2 separate regions of the Homo sapiens genome follow, and region 2 is linked to region 1. Evidence: fine-mapped expression QTL. Tissue or cell type: whole blood. Region 1 holds a variant in brackets; the other region holds the start of a gene. All regions are shown on one strand. Distances are from middle to middle.

Region 1 (9,926 bases):
TTATGACCCAACCCCTGGAGCTGGGGTCCAGCCTTCCCCTGAAGCACATGGCCCCTCGAAGGAGGTTGGATATCTGAACAAAATTGGGGTTCTGAGAATAAGCAAGAGAGTAAGATGGATCTGCGGCAGGAAATCAATGATGTCTGCAACAAATTAATTTCAAAAGCCATTTTTTTTTTTTTGAGATGCAGTCTTGCTCTGTCACCTAGGCTGGAGTGCAGTGGTGCAATCTCGGCTCACTGCAACCTCTGCCTCCTGGGTTCAAGAAATTCTCCTGCCTCAGCCTCCAGAGTAGCTGGGACTACAGGCGTTCGCCACCATGCCAAGCTAATTTTGTATTTTTAGTAGAGATGGGGTTTCCCAATGTTGGCTAGGCTAGTCTCGAACTCCTGACCTCAAGTGATCTGTCTGCCTTGGCCTCCCAAAATGCTGGGATTACAGGTGTGAGCCACGGCACTCGGTCACAAAAGCCTTTCTTGAATGGAATGAAAATATTTACTAAGTGTGTCTTATTTATATAAGGCTGATAAATCTTTTAGCAGTCTCAGCAGTTTGATAAATGGTTAGTTTTCTCTCTTGATTTTAATAAAACAATTAACATAATTATAATTTAAAGACTATTTTAAATAAATATTTAAATGTGATAAGCCTGGTACGGTCAATTCAGTTTGGCATAGGTTTTTAAAGTGTCTGTTCAGAATTCTTTTGGCTGGATTGGTTCACAATAAATATCAGTAATGATGAATGAAATTTGGCAGTTCACTCATTCTCCATAATTTAGAAAGGTGCTAACATGCCTCCAAAGTGTTAGAGAATCTGTTCCTACTTCCTACTGCCTTTCATCTGAGTGTAAAAGATAGGCTTTTAAAGTCCCACTTGCAAATGCCTGGACAGTTTTCTGGAACTCCAAGAGACACTAATCAAAAAAACAGAGGAGTGCTAAGGAGAAACTGTAAACTATCCTAGTTTGCAAGAAATAAAAACTGACTGGACCTAACTTGAGCATAAGAAACAATTTATTTTAAAAGTTCAGGCTGGGTGCAATGGCTCACCCCTGTAATCCCAGTACTTTGGGACGCCAAGGTGGGCGGACTGTGTGAGTCCAGGAGTTCCAGACCAGCCTTGGAAACATGGCAAAACCCCGTCTCTACAAAAAATACAAAAATTAGGCTAGGCAGGGTGGCTCACACCTGTAATCCCAACACTTTGGTGGGAGGCTGAGGAGGGTGGATCATGAGGTCAAGAGATTTGAGACCGTCCTGGCCAACATGGTGAAACCCTGTCTTTACGAAAAACACAAAAATTAGCTGGGCGTTCGTGGTGTGCGCCTGTAATCCCAGCTACTTGGGAGGCTGAGGCAGAAGAACTGCTTGAACCTGGGAGACGGAGGTTGCAGTGAGCCAACACCACGCCACTGCACTCCAGCCTGGGCAATAGAGTGAGATCCTGTCTTAAAAAAAACAAAAACAAAAACAAAAACAAAAATTAGCCGAGCATGGTGGTGCACACCTGTAGTCCCAGCGGCTTTGGAGGCTGTGGTGGGAGGGTTACCTGACCTCAGTGAGCTGTGATCGCACCACTACACTCCAGTCTGGGTGAGAGGCAAGACACCATCTCAGAAAAAAAAAAAAAGTTCAGGATGTTCCCTGGAAGCCTAAGGCAGGAATTCAATTGAGTCTCTGGTAGTTCTGCCTACCTGGAAGTGGAAGCTCATGACGAGATGGGAAGATCCATTTCTTGTCTCTGCTTCTCTCTACAGTCCTGTTTCATTCTCTCCTCTCTGCAAACTGTCTTTCTTGTTTTTTCATGTCTGTGGTGGGCAGATGATAGCTACTTTTTATTCTCTGCTCAGAAGACAGTCCAGAATCTTTGAGTGTCTCTCAGTTCTAATTCTGAATTCCAAGGAGAGAGAATCTGATTTACAAATAATGCTGAGCTCTCGTGCTAGACTAGGAACTTTATGAGGCCAAATACTCTATTTTCAGGCATCCCTTTGTCTCATGCTCTAGAACATGCTTAGTATATAGTGGACACCTGAGGAATGTTTGTTGAAGGAACTGAGACTTTTCCAAAAATGATGACTATCCAGTGTTGAAACTAGCGGCCCTGAAGAGTTGTGTGATTCCTAGCACTCGCAGAATTTAAGAAAAAAATGGATAAATATCTGCTTACTAATATTAATGGCTAACATGTACTGTTTCATACATTCCTCATTCATATAGCTTAGATTAAGGAACTTGCACACAGTCACCAAACTAGTAAGTGGTTGATAAGGCATTTTGACTCTAGTTCTGTCTGTCTGGATCTAAAACTCGGTGACCCTCCAGCACAGTATATGGCCTCCAATAAGATTTTTAGGAGCAATGCTGGAGGCCTGGTTGAGTCAGTCTAGTCTTGTCCTTATAAGTCTGATCTGGGGCTTAGTAAATTTCTCCTGTTAACCACTTTATCAGCTCCCAGCCAAAAGATCTTCCCTTGCTTACTGATGTCTAAAATTCCATCTTTAGCAGAGTCATTTCTTTCTTTGGTTTAATATAAGGAGTATCTCATCATTATAGAGTACGTGGCAGGTTACAAAGACCTTTACATAATGATGTCATTTTTATGACAATCCAGTGACATCAATAAGGCAGGGATTATTGACTCCCATTTTTGAGATAAAGAAATGGAGGTTCACTGCTGCTAGGTGACTTGCTCCAGAAGAGATGACTGAACTCTCCAGGGAGCCTATGGACTCACCGCTTAGGGGTAGAGAGGAGGAACCTCTTTGGTCATGTCCCTGGGGGTGGGCAGTGAAAGCTGATCCATCAAGAGAGAAGCAAGAGTCACCTCCAAATGGGCTGAGAGGGACGGACAGCCACGGGCCACCTGGTACTGAGTTCTGTTGCTGGACTAGGGACTTTATGAGGACAAACACTGTTTTCAGTCATCTCTTTGTTCTCATGCTCTAGAACATGCTTGGTATATAGTGGACACCTGAGGAATATTTGTTGAAGGAATTGAGACTTTTCAAAATATGACAAATATCCACTGTTGGAATGAGCTTCCCTGAAGAGTTGTGTGAGTTCTAGCACTGTCAGAGTTTAAGAAAAAATGATAAATATCTGTTGACTAATATTAATGGCTAACATTGTTTACTATGTGCTGAGTACTGAGCTAAGTACTTTACTTGTATTGTTTCATGTATTCCTCATTCCAACCACATGAAATAGGTTCTATCATTAATCACATTGAAACCAAGGCATGGAAGAGTGAAGTTACTTGCTCAAGAATCCATTGCAAATAGTATGGCCAGGATTTGAACCCTGGAATACTGAGTTAGAGCCTTGGATCTTAATCATGTTGTCAGTCGTTTCCCAGGTGAGGCAGGAGTCTGAAGTAGGTTACCCCTTAAGAAATTTTCAACTATTTAAGATTCTCTGGTGGTTGGCCGTAAGATTAGTACTACCACACGGAGAAAGCTGGGAACAAGAACTGGTTGTAGACTGGGTGTGGTGGTTCATGCCTGTAATCCCAGCACTTTGGGAGGACTGCTTGAGCCCAGGAGTTTGAGACCAGCCTAGGCAACACAGCAAGACCTCATTTCTACAAACATAAATAAGTAAATTAGCTGGGATACATGCGTCTGTATCCCAGCTACTCAGGAGGCTGAGACGGGAGGATTGCTTGAGCCCAGGAGGTCAAGGCTGCAGTGAGCTGTGATGGCACCACTGTACTCCAGCCTGGATGACAGAGGGAGACCCATCTCAAAAAAAGCCCCCCAAAAACGGCCGAGTGTGGTGGCTCATGCCTGTAATCCCAGCACTTTGGGAGGTCGAGGTGTGTGGACCACTTGTCAGGAGTTCGAGACCAGCCTGGCCAACATGATGAACCCCGTCTTTACTAAAAATACATAAATTAGCCAGGCATGGTGGTGAACGCCTGTAATCCCTCGGGAGGCTTTGGCAGGAGAATTGCTTGAACCCGGGAGGTGGAGGTTGCAGTGAACCGAGATCGCACCATGGCACTCTAGCCTGGGTGACAAGAGTGAAACTCTGTTTCAAAAAAAAAAAAAAACCCAAAAAACAAACACCATCCCCCACCAAAAAAACAAAAACAAAAACAAAAAAACAAAACTAGTTGTAGAATGTAGAGAGGTTGGTAAAGAACAAGTTGATTTTGGTTATGTTTGGTATGAAGAGTCAGGATATCCAAATGGAAAAGTCCACTGATATTCTTTATGTTCAACAAAAAGATAATTCCTACTTACGCTGTTGCCATAAAAAGTTCTTCCAACATAATGCGTCATAACTATCCTAGTTTGGCTGTGTGTATTATGGTACTTATGGCTCACAGTACCCTGTTAACACAGTCTCATATTTTATTATTGATAATACTGCAGCTTTGTGAGATAAGCAACATTCCCATTTTAGAAGACAATTAAACACTGACTGTCTTTTGTCAGAAATTTCATTACAGAAAGTGTATGTAATTTCAAAACTGAAAACCACAAAGAAGTATCTTCTACACAACAAAAAGAAAAAAGCAAACAAAATATATCTTAAGGCTTAAAGAGTTCTAACTAAATTTGCCCGCCGAATCATTTCTTAACAAACAGGGATCTCAAATTTAGCATGCTGTATTATCACCATTCTTGGCAATAAAACAAAAATTGCAAACATATTAAGAAAACAATGCAATCTAAAACACAACAAGTGATAATCCATGTAAAAAATTATTTGATGGAATAACATTACTATTTAATAATAAAGTTCTGCTAAAGCTTTAGAAATATCAGAAAAAACTTACACTGGCAAACATTCATCAGGCAGTCAACAACTGAATGTCCCCTGTATACTGATACTAGGGGTGAAGAGACTCTAAAAAAAAGGGGAACAAGGCAAAATTTAACTTCAAGGGGCCTTTTCTCGCAGCATTGCAAATAAAACCCATGACTCTGGACATAAAAAAGCAACAGTGACACTGGGGACTACTAGAGGCGGGAGGGATGGAGGGGGAAAGAGTTGAAAAACTACTGGGTGCTATGCTCACTACCTAGGTGACGGGATCATTCATATCCCAAACCTCAGCATCATGCAATATAACCATGTAACAAACCTGTACATTATACCCTGAATCTAAAAGTTGAAATTATAAAAAAGCAAACAAGAAAACCCATGACTCCTAGGAACAAGCACTCAGGTTCCCATATGACCAAAGCCAGCCAGAGGCAAACTTGGAATCAGATAGGCCTAGGCTTTCTTTTTTTTTTTTTTTTTTTTTTGAAACAGGGTCTCGCTCTGTCACCCAGGCTGGAGTGCAGTGGCGCAATCTCGGCTCACTGCAAGCTCCGCTTCCCGAGTTCATGCCATTCTCCTGCCTCAGCCTCCCGAGTAGCTGGGACTACAGGCGCCCGCCACCACGCCCGGCTAATTTTTTATATTTTTAGTAGAGACGGGGTTTCACCGTGTTAGCCAGGATGGTCTCGATCTCCTGACCTTGTGATCCGCCCACCTTGGCCTCCCAGAGTGCTAGGATTACAGGTGTGAGTTACCCCGCCCGGCCGGCCTAGGCTTTCATCACAACAGACGCA[C/T]TGTTTACCAATGGTACGACCTTGGGGAAGTTGCAAAACCTCTCTAAGCTCATTTCTTCATCCACAAAATGGTAAAACTAATCTTTTCTGCGTAGGGTTGTTGTAAGAATTACATGAGAGGTGTGAAAACAGTCTAGAACAGTGGCAGTGTGGACTTGCAATAAATGTTAGCCTCATCCTTTTCCCCACATTAGTTCCTTTGCTTTTAAGAAAACTGCTAAAATACAGAGGAAATTGACTCCCTCATTCAATTAAAAACACAGTTATTGTCTACTGGGCCACTATGTACAGATGTATAGGTTGTTCCCTGCTGAAGAGAGATTGGTGACTGGATTCCAGCCCATAAACACTCATCAGACTTGGTGTTCTGTTTCTAATTTGCACAAAGGTGCTACATGTGTGTTTCAGAAGTGACAAAACTGGGCTTTGCCCACAAGTAGCATGTAGCTTGTATCTCATGTCTGAGGGGAAAACAGACAAGTAATCAAGAACTACAATACATATTAAAAAAAAAGAAGTAAAAAAACCCTACAATACATATAATTAATGCTAGTCTAAAGAAGGCACTGCAAGAACAAAAAAGAAAGACATTTAAATCAGACAATTTGGGGGGCCCAGGATTAGTGACCGAGGATCAGTAACTTAAAGGATGATGGGGAGATCGTGGGGAAGGATGTTCTAGGCAGAGGAGTGACATTTAATTATTAATACATTTATTCATTCAGTAAATGTGTTTTGTTAGTTCATGTCTTTTATTAACTCATACACAATTAATTGTCTTCTGGTTTGCTGAAGCAATGAGACATTTGTCACAATAATGTCTGTCAAAGTGGCTGGCCATAAACGCTCCAGTACCACATTCATCTGAAGAGCACTCTAGATGAAGGCGACTTATTTTGCCATTCTCATCCACCTTACAGTATTTCAGGACAGCCAGCTTCACCTTCTTTCGCTTACGCTTATTCTTCTCAGGAGTGGTGTAAACATTCAGTAAAAAATAATTGAATATCTAAGTGCCACGTACTGTTCCAGTACTGAAGATACAATAGTGAATAAAACAGACAGGATCTCTTTCTTGTAATTCTAACATTCTAGTAGAAGAGACAAAAAATAATTGGGCCAAAAAATATTAAGTAGTGCGATGTACTTTGGGAGAATATAAGCAGGGTGGAGGTGCTGGTGGTAGGTGGGGTGAGGATGCGACCTTAGAATGGAGAGTGGAAGAGTGGGAGAGTAGGAAGGCCTCTTCAGGTAGGTGTCATTTAAGCTCAGATCTGAATGGCAAGTGTGGGAAGCTCGGGTTGATCATATCAGGCAGAGGGAGGAGCTGTTGCAAGTCTTAAGTGGGGAATGAACTTTGTGTTTTTAAGTTGGCAAAGACCAGTGTGGCTGAAATGCAGTGGATGAAAAGAGGGGCAGGAGATGCAATATGGAGAGAGAGGTATGTGCCAAACCTAGGTAAGGCCTGGAAGCTTGAGAGTGGTGAGCTCAGAGACCTGCTAAGAGTTTGATATGGCATTAGGAAAGGGACTGTGTTAGGTGATGAGAGAAGTGATTTGGGAGATACAGGCAAGAAACAGATTCCGACAAGCCCTACATGGAGGATCTGGGAGGTATTATTTCTGCTCAGTGCTATGCAGAGAATCCCAAGGAGGCCATGACTAAAGTCATTCAAAGAAAACCTTTCATGTTTATGCCTTCAAGGAAGGTATGAATACTGAATCTTATCTTTATTACTTGTTCTTGAATCAAAGTCATCAATGAGAACTTAGAACTCTTCTCAGGCGTGCCCCTAAATTCTGATTAATGTAAGATTTATTTTTGCAACATTTGAGTATACTTACCCTGATGGTGATTTCTGTTCCATGGAATGTTAAACTAAGTTGTTTTGTAAAAGAAGAATATATTTTACAATGACTTAAATGTTGAGGCAGCACATAATGTCATGTTGGTAACAAATATGTGATATTTATTTATTAGAGCATGAGAGTATTTTGCCTCCTGATATATGAGGCAGACATTGCTATTTGTCTACCTTATATCCATGGTTTCCCCTTCATTCTTAACAACAGAACCTCAATTTTGTTTGCGAATGAGCCCAACCGAAAATACTTGTGTTCTAAACTTCCTTGCAGCTAGGGATCATCCTGTGACACAGTTCTGGTCAACATGTAGGTGGAAGTTTCTAGGGAGTGTGGTCTTTCCTGAAGAAAAAGGCAAAGTCTGGAGAAAGCCCTTTTTCCTGTTCCCTTTCGTGCTTCCCCTTCCTTTCTGGTATTTGTAATCATTTAGTGACTTGATGTTTGGAGTCTTCTAATTTCTTTAAACATATTGCAAAATAGTATGTGGAGCTGAAGACCACTGTCCCATGAGGAGGTGGGCTACATCTTTGTGATGTTTGCACTGGTCTGGAGCTAAACTGCAGGCATAAAACTATAGTAAGGTAATTTTATCAAAAGTACAGTATCTCTCAGAATTCATTATACTGAAGGCTGTACTTCATGTTTGTAGTGATAAGTAGTTTCTCCCTTTCCTTGATCCAGAATGTATGTATGTAGTGATACATAAGTTTCTCCCTTTCCTTGATCCAGAAAAATCTAGTCAACAATTATTTCTTAAATGTTCATTTAACTATATATATACTGACTATAATTTCAATTTCAAATGTAACACTTCCTTTTGTGCCATGAGGGATACAGCAAGATTTTTTCAAGTTCCTGGGCCTGTAGATTTAAAAAAAAAAAAAAAAGAAAGAAAAGTAAGAAAAAAAGAAAAGAAATTAAAAAGAGGAAAAGATTTTTGTTCTTGGGAAGCTGATAATTTCATGAGATGACAGATGTATTCACAAATAAATGTAAAACAAGTACGTATATGATGTGGTGGGCCATGGCCAGGCCTGCCGCAGAACGACTAAGTGGATGTGAAGGGATTTGGAAAAAAAGCCCCTGCCCCAAATGCAAAGCACACGTTTCCAGGGCTGGAACCTGGATGTTAGGCCTAGGTGATGTGACTCCAGAGTGGCAAAACTGTTGCCTTATGTATAGTATAAATTGTTTCTGGATGGTGAAGAGCCTAGGGTTATAAAAGTTATTGAGTCTACAATTCTGTGAGACATCTCATTCTGTATAGGCCCTGTCACTGAGTTGCAGTGTGCCTCTAGATACAAGGAGTCAGTGTGAGCTGCTTCCTCCCCCACAACCTGCCTCCGTATTTGGTTTCTGTGCTCTGTGCAGTTTACTGGCTGCTTCAGGATTAAACAAAGTAAAAGCAACCCTGAAATGTTGCCCATTAAATAGCATCTTTGAGTAGGCCGTGTGGGGAGGTAATAAGTGCCATTAGGGCATTATTAGGATGAGTGTCAAAGAGTTGTGAGGAGGAAGAAACTTCTGGCTGGAGGCTTCAGGAAGGTGGCAGCATGAGCTACATCTTGAACGGTGGATAAAATTTCTTAAGGTGAAGATGGGAGGAAAGGCATTACAAGAACAGGAAAGAATATGAATGAGGAAATGGAGGTAGGAGAAGAGAGCCGTGTATTGGAAATGAAAAGCAGTCCTGTTTGGCTGAAGAACAAGAACTGTATGAGGAAGCAGTGAAAGATGAGGCTGGAAAGGGAGTCAGGGCCAGGCTAAAAGGGTTGGCATTTAAAGTTAGTCATGGGAGCCATGGAATGTTTTTGAGCAACTATTAAAGCAGGTGGATTAGTAAAATAGGGAACACACAAATAAATCTGGCAGCATTACTGTGCATGAAACATGGATGAAAAGACTGGGAGATCGCTTAAAATGCCCAGGCATGAACTGAGGTCACATGTGATCACAGAATAGGACAGGAATTTAAGAGTGCTATTTTAAAACTAATTGCTTTGCGGGTGGGGAGGGGGTGGTGCATCAAAGGGAAAAAAGACTATGAATTTGAGTTTTGGAATTTAACATATGGGAGGATAATAAATAGTACAGTGAACAAAGGGAAGACAGGAAGAAGGAAATATAGTATTCGTTTCAGAGATGTTGGGTTGAGGCACAAGTGGAACATTCTGGTGGAAATTTGCTACAGGCAATTGAAAATAGAATAGAGCTCAGCTGAGAGGTGGAGTGGCGGATGACTCACCTACATTGAGGTGAGTCAGGGACTTTGATCTGTCATAAGCATAGTATATGAACCTAATAACAGGCTCTAAATACTAGACAAATGTCCTAACAAGGAAGACAGAGATCTAGGAGTGCCTTGAGAAAAAAGGCAGCACTGCGATTATTGATCTGTATAACTTGTGTTTGTTTTACCAGCTGTGAAATTCTCAGAACTGGCAGGTAGTATTGTCAAGGGACACATTCTTGTATAGAAACCCACAACGCTG
Region 2 (9,926 bases), 36 kb after region 1:
AACTTAGATAACTTTTGTAGCAGTGGTTATATTGCTTATAATTTAATGTACAATACTATTGAAACTGGTGAGTTCTGATTATTAAATATTCTCTGTAAATCAGTAAACATGTATAAAGTATTTGTAATGTTTGGTCATAATTTATTTATGAAGACAGCAAAAGACTGATTTCATGATGGGGAAAACAATTAGCCAAAGTTTAATTTCTTACACTGTGGTTGTCAAGAATACTGATTTACTATAATGATATATACATGCAAGATATTTAACTTAATATCTTAGACAAGAGTTCTGGGTACAATTTTGGGATCTAGTTCCCCTGGAAAAGCTGCTGTATTTTTAATTTTTAATGGAATGTAGCTTTTAAAATCCTGTCACTGGCATCAACAAAAGGAATTATACCATGAGACCTTATAGCTGTACTTAAAAGCCATTCAGTTCAGCTATTGGGAGTTCATGATGAATTAGCATATGCCAGAAAGGTTGCTAACCTTAACATCTGAGAGCAGTAACACTGATTTTATCTGCTGTATGAGACTTTGTGCATTTTACTTTGAAATAAAGATTTTTTTCCACACTGAAAGTGCTTCTCTTCTAATAGAAGAAATATTATTTATGGCTTTGAGGTACAGAGTCCAAAATGACTAGGCCAGGTGGGCAGGGAGACAAAGCTTTATGTGTATATTTACAAACATTAAAGTAGATGAAAAGAATGTAGCAATACATAATTGGGATTAAGGTTTCTGACTTTCAAGAATATTTCTGCTTGGCAACATGCAGTGTGGCTCATGCCTATAATCAGCACTCTGGGGAGGCTGAGGCGGGAGGATGGCATGAGCCCAGTTTGAGACCAGCCTGGGCAACATAGCGAGACCCTGTCTCTACCAGAAATTTAAAAAATGAGTGTGGTGGTGTGTGCTTCTACTCTTTATCTACTTGGGTGCTGAGGCAAGAGGGTAACTTGAGCCCAGGAGGTCAAAGCTGCAGTGAGCCGTGATTGTGCCACTCCAGCCTGGGTGACGAGTGAGACCTTGTCTCAAAAGCAAAACAAAAAAGAATATTGCTGCTTGTTTGCCCATGAGGTATATTTCTTTCATTTTATGAAAAGCATTTTGACAACACGTTAACATTTAATAAACTTTAGATTAAAATATATAGTGCAAGCAACATGCCATTTCAAATCCGTAGACTTGTTTCTTTGATACTCTTGCTGTAGGTCGCCGTGAGGGGTAGGGAAGCATATATACTGTAGGGAGAAGTATCAAAATCATTTAAGGTCTTTTTTCCAAACTAGTGTTCCCCTCCCACATCCCAACAACTCTTGGAAGTCTGGTGCTCCCTCTAGGTGAAAATCATTTGCTGGCTTATGGAGTCACTGTTGCTGAGTCCCATCCCCCAGTTACAGTGCAGTGGAAAACAGGTTTAGAATCTAGAACTTGTTTGTATGTTGTCACTTGGTTATGTTCCAAGTAGGTTAGAACCATGGAAAAGAGATTGCAAATGGTAGTTTCTTCTAGATATTCAAATGCATATATGTATGTACATGTAATTATAAATAAATAATGAATTTTTATTAAAGTGTTGTATGAACATAGGTTTTTGTTTGTTTTTGAGACAGTCTCCCTCTGTTGCGCAGGCTGGGGTGCAGTAGCGCAATCTTGGCTCACTGTAACCTCTGCCTTCAGGGTCCAAACGATTCTCCTGCCTCAGCCTCCTGAGTTGCTGGGATTACAGGTGTGTTCCACCACACCTGGCTAATTTATATTTTTAGTTGTGATGGGGTTTCACCATGTTGGCCAGGCTGGTCTTGAACTCCTGACCTCAAGTGATCTGCCCGCCTTGGTCTCCCAAAGTGTTGGGATTACAGGCATGAGCCACCGTGCCCAGCCTGAACATAGTTTAATGGTACTTCAAGGCTAATAAGGAAAGCCCCTTGCTCCATCCTTTCCTATTCCTCAGTCCCATCCCAAGAGACATTCAGCCTTCAGTTTTTTCTAGCTCGGTTCTTTCAGCCTTCAGTTTTTGGTTTTAGGTTTCTAAATAATATGATTATACAGCCATTTATTTTTTAGGTGTTTGTCAACTTACTATTAAGACAGGTGAAAATTTCTTTTATTGTTTCACATCCTTCTAATATTATTTTGGTTAGATCATGTACCTGTTTGCATAGCTGTGATCATACTTGTATGTTCACTCGTGAATTAATTTAATGTGCTTACATTTTCATTCTCATACAACGTTTTGTCTTGGAGTTAATGCTCTTTTTTTTGGCTTTTTATGCACATCATTGATTCTTCCCAAACAGTCCCAAATAAATTTGTCACAACTTTTCTTGATTCTGTACTTGTTTCAATCTAGACTAGTTTCTCTCATCCAATTGTATAGCAGTTTTCCTGAGACAGCACTATCGTGAGGATTTGTTTTTCTTTCTCTTGAATTGTATCCCTCATTTTCTGGATCCCATGTCTTAATTTACTTCTTTGTTAACATGGAGCACTTCTTTCAGTAGTTTCTTGGGAATGAGTGCGTGAGAGATCAGTCAGTTATTTAGTGACTTCATATTTCTGAAAGATAGTTTGCATGGAAATTCTAGGTGGAAAATCAAATTTGGAATTTTTGAAAATTTTGACAAGTGTATTCAAATTCAGAATTTTGAAGGCATTGCTCTATTCTAATTTGCAAAATCTTGAGATATCTGATGCAGTTTTTATTTTTATTTCTTTGTTTTCTCAGCATCTCTGTTTCTAGTGTTCTAAAATTGCATGATACTGTGCTTTGGTGGGATTGGCAACCTGGAAAATATTAAGTTCTTCATCTCTTCTCTTCCTCCTCATTTTCTTTGTTCTGGAACTCTATGACATAGTGGAGCTCCCAAATTGAATCTTGGGCCTTATTTATTTTTTTTTTTTCTGTCTGGGATATTTCTCTAAGACAATTTTCCAATTTGTATTGCATTTTGTTTTTGGCTAGCATTAAATTACTTGCCTCTGTGTAGCTCCATGCCACACTCTTGCCTCTAAATCCTAGGCCTGCCTGAATTCTGCAGGATCAGTCCTACTGTCACTCATCTGTGATAGCCCTGCTAAGGCAGATACCACTCTTCTTACCATGTTCAATACATTTATTGAGCTCTTCAGTATTGTTTCTTCCTATTTTAATTTTTCTGGTTTTGTAATTTGTACTCCTGCTTTTTTACTGGGCTTTTGGGAGGAAGAAGGTATAGAGTGTTAATCTGCATGTTGAATTTATATGCAGGTGACTTTATTCATGAAACTTGTGGTAACTGCTAGACAAGGGTGGCTGGGTGTTCAATGTGTAAGAATGCTTGTGTTTTCTTGAAAGTAGAAAAATGTTGTGTTATAGACTAGTTGTTCATTGCTTGATTCTTGATTAATTTTGCCCGCTTTCATTATTTTGAGGCTCAAGCATTTTGAAGTATTCATTGTCTGTGACTCCTCTTTGATGGGTACTAAATTTCCTGGGAGTGAATTTAGATACCCTGAGATGTAATATATGAAAGAAAAAGCAAATACTTGAGAATGTCCCTAGATTAGACACTTCATGTGAGAATATCTCTTTTTGTGACCCAAAACTCTTTTTTTTTCTTTTGAGATGAAGTTTCGTTTTTGTTGCCCAGGCTGGAGTCCAATGGTATAATCTGCCTCAGCCTCCTGAGTTGCTGGGATTACATGCATGTGCCACCACACCCGGCTAATTTTGTATTTTTAGTAGAGATGGGGTTTCTCCTTGTTGGTCAGGCTGGTCTCGAACTTCCGACCTCAGTTAATCTGCCTGTCTCGGCCTCCCAAAGTGCTGGGAATACAGGCATGAGCCACCGCACTCGGCCCCAAAACTCTTCTTAAAGGTGGTCTTGCAGGTATGTTATAGTTAAAATGAAGTAGGTTGTCTTGCTTTGTTCTTAAGTGGCTTTCCAGAAGTCTAACTGGTCTAAAGGCAGTCTTATCCCCCTCACTGGTGTATAGTTCAATTCAGACTTGAATGCGAGGTATGGGTTTACATCTCATCTCTGCCACTTATAATCAGTGTATCCCTCAACAATTAAATTCCTTAGTCTCCATTTCCTTCCTCCTTCAGGGGAAGTTAATATTCCACAAAGTTAGAAGTTACAGGAGAGGAAAAGTAGTAAACGCCCCAAAATGAGGCAGTTACTTCTATTATATCTTCAAAGGATACATGGCTCAAGGCAGATCAGGTAGTTGGGAGATTTCTTAAAAACAGCATAATAGCTAACATGAACATTTTCATTATTCAGAGAAATTTGACATAGCTTTTTAACGTATGTTTCTGAGAAAAGTTACTAGTTATATTGTCTTCCTCCAAGAATTAGTCTTTGGGTACAGATGAGGCTTGAAAAAATGACATTCCCTCTTAGACTAGGTAGTGTGAAGGGAAAAAAAAAATGACATTCCTCTTCCCCCAAAGCAGAGTGAGGTCCGTATGGGATATAGGTGTAAAGAAAATTTTGGGCCGGGCATGGTGGCTCAAGTTTGTAATCCCAGCACTTTGGGAGGCCGAGGTGGGTGGATCACTTGAGGTCAGGAGTTCAAGACTAGCCTGACCAACATGGTGAAACCCCATCTCTACTAAAAATAAAGAAATTAGCCAGCTATGGTGGCACATACCTGTAATCCCAGCTACTTGGGAGGCTGAGGCAGGAGAATCTGGAAGCAGGAAGGTCTCAGTAGGCTGGGATCATGCCACTGCGCTCCAGCCTGGGCAACACAGCAAGACTCTGTCTCAAAGAAAATTTTGTGGAACACCTATTTTCTCACTGACATGAAAAATGTTTCAAAGATGAATAATGTCCATCAAGCTATGGCAATGGAAGTGAGGATGATAAAGGATTGCACAGTTGTTCACAACCTCACTGTTAGTATCCTGCTGAGATAGTTGGTCTCCTCATCACTGTAGCATCTTTTATGTACAGCAGAGGGCAGAAGCTCCTTGGCATGTATGTGAGGGAACCACATATATGGAAGGCTGTTATTCCTGAGAAAGGAGGATGTGCAGACACTCACAGAACAAAGCCTTTGTAAAGGAAAGGCGGCCGATGAGATGGAGTGCTTCCTTCACCTGTGGTGGGTCTGTATCCATGAAATCGCCCACTCACAATCGCTTTTTGTAGCTACTGGAAGCACTAGGCGTCTGACCTGCCATCATCCTTGTTATGATGTCATAATCATATTCTGTCCGTGTTTATTGCAGTTCTCTGGTTTGTCTGGAGTGTTTGCAAGTCAGTCATCATAGTGGCAGCTTCCGCCTGCTACAGGATATTTATATATGGAAGCATACCATGGCAGGAGTGCTGGAAAGGTGGTGTCAGCTAACAGTTGCTTCAGCCAGATAAGGACGGTAACTTCAGTCCAATAAAAACCTCATCAGTTACCAACTAAATCAGGGCATGGTGTTTTTTTGTTGTTTTCTTTTTAAAGCATAGTTTTAGTAATATATTTACTAAAAACCTTAGACATTATGAAAAAAGTCAGGATTTGGAATCTTACACTGCTTGGCTAAATTGACACAATATAGACCAACAGTTTCATCCTGGGGCTTATGGGTCTCATAGGAGCACCCGTATGCTGAAGAAAGGCAAAGAGAGAACTACAGAATTTGTAGAAAAGTTTTGTTGTAGTTGCTTCTGAACAATTAGTTTTTGTTTGTTTGTTTTGTTTTGTTTTGTTTTTCTGGTAACCTAGCAGTCAAAGCTCACATTTTTGTAAGTAATTTGCATGCTATTACTCTACTGAGACTGAATTATGATTCTCGAGTCTGGGAAGTTTTTGTTGCATGTGCTCTGTGTTTTTCATTTTTGATAGAAATGATTTAGACTTGATTTTAAAAATTACTTCCTGAATGTGAAGAGGCATTGACTGGGAAATGAAATTAAAGAACAAATTACCATGACTCATTCAATAACACTGCTTATTAGCTTTGAATTATGCCCTATTATAACAATTCTGATTTTGTGGCAAGCAATACTGGTGTGAGTTATTTCTGTGGTTTGATACCAAGCACCTGCCTGGTTAAAAAATAAAGCACCAGGCAATTTTTCATAGACAATTATCTTTATTTGTTGGAATATTTATTTGTAAATAGTCAAAGAATTCTTAAATGACAAAAAATCAACTGTTAGCAGTGATCTAAACCAGAGGAAAATGAAATTACTTACATGTTTCCAGTCAAGGTATAAGAAAGGGTTCTGTTAAAGGGATGCTGCTTTAGCCAATCTTGGTGAATAAGCAAATTTGCACACTGGAGTTGAAAGGAGGGTCAAGTTAGTGTGATGAAGAATTGCTAGTAACACTGGCTTCTCCAGCCTTGCTGGTTGTTCCTAGATGCCCTCATTTGGAGATGCCAAAGATAGCAACTACTGGGTGTCAAACAGCCGTGGGGCCTGGTTTTAAGGCCATGTGATCTTGTATCCCTTTACTAGCAGCCTCATGAGTCATTTGCAAGTCATTTGCAGGCTCTTGGAGCCCTGGAACAGCACCCAACTCAGTTTTCTCTGCTAGTTCTTTATTTTTCCATTTGCGTGTTGCAGCTCATTAAAAAAATATTGGAATAGCATATATTTACATTGTGACTTCACTCTAAAGAAGACATTTTCTTTCAAAGCACGTCATGGCTCACTAGGTTGTTGTCTTAGTTTTTTTTGGAGTCACCTTTTGAGTAGATAGCAAGACCAGTAATATGGAGATTTTATTAGCTGTACTCTTAAAGTCAGTTTTTGTGGCCATGATTTTCTAGCTAGGTCTCTATTTTGTAAACATTGATTAAGCCTCAGTATGAAATTGAAGCAACAGCAGATACATTCCTGAAGGGGAAGCTAAGGCTCAAGGCTATTAAGTCAGAGATCCAAAAATGAACCATGCTTCAGTTACCACACCTAAAATAGAAGCTGTGTGCAGAACAGTGGTCCTGTGATGTGACACATAAAACTTTTTTTCCTGGTCACATATTACTGTTTGGTCAAATATTAGTATAAATGGATGATAAAATATGAAACACATCTAAAAGAATTGTTTTAAAATCTGTGACTATGCATGAGTGAATATTTTGGGGCCTTGGTTTTAACTGCAAAAGGATAAGATTTGACTGACCTCTAAGGCCCTTTTACTCTATTTGCTGCTGCTTTTTAATTTTTTTTAATTGTCATATCAAGTCATTTCCTTAGGAATGCTCTATGAAGTATATTTGGAATTCAGTAATGTCAATAAAGTGCTATGGTAGTATCTTATCTGAAAACTCAGGGAATTGTTTGTTCTTGTTAATTAAAATTTCAAGATAAGTGAAACACACTTTTTTAGTTTTAACCCTAAAAAAAATTTTTAGTCCATGACTTTTTGAGCTCACTTTCTTAGCTAGGGTTCTGGTAGCACATTTTTCACAAGTACCAGTAGTTTTAGGTATTACTGGGAAATTGTTTTTTTAATATTTTAGACTAAGTTTAAATTGCTCAGTAAGTGTCTGATACTTTTTTTCCCCACATCTTCTTTAGGTGTATACTTTTTTTTTTTTTTTATGAATTTGGTTTCTCCCAACTCTATATTGCTCTTCATTCTGTAGATGAGTTTTAAAGGAAATTTTTGCAACAACAGAAAGTAAACAGTGTGTTGTCAAATACACACAGGCACCATATTTATCGCATTGACTTTACTAGAGTCCAGATAGACATCACATGAGGATTTTTATCCTCAATCTTATTTCTGTTCATGTACTTATTATTAACTGCCTCCAATTCTTTTGAAAATGGTGAGATTTAAATCCTAAATAAACATTTCAGGTGTTCCATCTTAACATAAGTCACCAACTTCTAAACCTGGCACTGGGCATTTGAAGAATAGGATTCGTCCCTACTCTAAGGAGTTTTCAGTCTATCGGGAAATCAAAGATGTAAGCAAATAGATGCAATAAAATACTACAGATGTTCTGATAGAAGAATGTAAAGAATCCAGCAAAGGCAAAAGGAAAGACAGGTTGGTTCTCTCTTCCTAGGGGAAGTGATGTTTGAGCTGAGTCTTGAGGCAGGATTAGGAAGGGATATAGAAAAGAAAAGTAGCACAAAGCAAGACTCATTGAATGCTGAACAAAAGGCCCGATTCCAGCTCTGCTGCCAGGCAAATGTGTGATCCTGGGCATTTACCTCGCCGAGCTTCCATTTCCTCATTTGCGGAAAGGATGGGAACTAAAGCACATCTAACACCCTTTCTAGATCCAAACATCCTCTATCACGATTAGACTTGATAACCATGAAAGGAAAAGCTTTTATAGTAATTGAAATTTGTCTTTCTAGAGGCTTCTTTTCACATAATTAAATGGCCACAAGTTCTCTGTTGTGCTAGAGATACATCTCCACATAAACCTTTTAAACTCTTCAGGATTTTCAGTGTTGCTTGCAGTTGTGCTGTCGTTAGAGAATATTACTTTCAATATTTAATAAACCTCAAGCTATTACATAAGTGACCTCAGTCTAAGGGAAACCCAGGTGGAAGAGATCTCAGAGGTCCTGAAGTCTAGCAGCATTCCTCTCTATAGCAGCTAAGTTTGCTAAGATTGTTGTCTTGGGGACTCACAGTCAGCATCTTATGGCTAAAGGAATTGTGTGAAGAGAAGGACTTACATGCCATATGGAGGGAGGCTATAAAAATTGCAATTTTCTATTAAAGCCTCCTGCAATTAGAATGGTTCATGGTAATATTCTCTTTTTTCAGAATGTTTTGTGGCCACTGCTGACTAGCTTAATTTTGTCTACCTAGTCTTCTTGCACAAAGGATTTGAGGCATCTCACCAGAATGTGAACAATGTAATAAAAGAAAAATTTTAAAATTAGTTACAAAATAAAAACAGATCCAGGGAAAATATAGGCAGAACTGAGACATCTGAGGAGGAGAAAAGAGTGTTTGCAGATAAGCAGGGTATACATGGATGTACAATTCTTAAAATTGGGCCACACATTTGACTGTGAGCTTCCTGGCAAGCAAAGCAAAAAGAACGATTACAAAGTGGTCCACAGAAGGAAATATTTTTTTCTGGATAAGCCAAGTTCTCTAGAGCCTTAGTTGAAAATACTATTTGTGGGTGGTTCTTCATAGGCCTGTCTGGCTTCCTGGTGGCTGTGGTTCTTGTGAAGTTGAGTTCACAAGCCCAACCTCTTGTTTTTAACATCAGTGTTTTCTTCCAGGGACAATGACTCATTCTTCCCAGGACACTGGTTCTTGTGGCATTCAGGAAGATGGAAAGCTTTATGTGGTGGATTCCATAAATGACTTAAACAAACTAAACCTCTGTCCAGCCGGATCGCAGCATCTGTTCCGTATGTGTGCTGGGGAAGGCACAGCAGCCCTTCCTAGCTTCTAGGCTACCTAAAAATAGCCACTGCTGACTGGATGTGTGGGTGTGGTGGAGGGGGAGGGGGCATTAGGAAGAGGTTGGCACTGGAAATGTTATTTGTTGTTGGGCAATTTTGCTTTTGTTTTCTGAATACTTGACAGGATTATGGGCTTTCTTGGATCCTACACGAGATTTGAACTCTTGACTTCAAATATTCTGAGATCCTGTGGCGTTTCTGTCCCTGGAAAGGGGTGGAGCCTGCAGAGCTGGACTCCTGGAGGCTGGCTCATCCCTCTCCTAGTGACCATGGCTAGGTTACCGATGGGGACCACTTCCCACAGGAGTGTTGTTTTATAGCAGATTGCTGAGAGAATGCTCAATCCAGAGCATTTTCTACTTACAAGTTACAAATTGTGCAATTAAGGGTTGGAGAAAGGGGGTGGGGGGAGCAAAATAAAATCTGCTAAATACTAAGTGTGTATCTTGCCTCCTAAATATTATAAATGAGCTTTATCAGATCACTCTGAGTGCCATCTTTTCTAGCTTAAATGCTGACATTCAAACACCAGTGTTAA

What was found.
Region 2: it holds the start of LSMEM1, and the variant in region 1 is fine-mapped to the expression of LSMEM1 in whole blood (TOPMed, PIP above 0.99).

What each region holds. Positions count from the first base shown.
Region 1 is chr7:112,439,822-112,449,747 of GRCh38, forward strand. LOC105375457 (a long non-coding RNA gene) reads right to left here and starts at 3,529. Exons shown (of 3, transcript XR_001745325.2): 1 at 2,484-3,529; 2 at 1,697-1,892. It also overlaps a transcript of IFRD1 not described here. RefSeq lists an enhancer at 9,729-9,926. The variant C/T (reference allele first, on the strand shown) is at 5,573.
Region 2 is chr7:112,475,610-112,485,535 of GRCh38, forward strand. It overlaps LSMEM1 (leucine rich single-pass membrane protein 1), which reads left to right and starts at 5,382. Exons shown (of 4, transcript NM_182597.3): 1 at 5,382-5,737; 2 at 9,203-9,334. The coding sequence starts at 9,208. IFRD1 (interferon related developmental regulator 1) reads left to right here. Exons shown (of 12, transcript NM_001550.4): 12 at 1-1,594.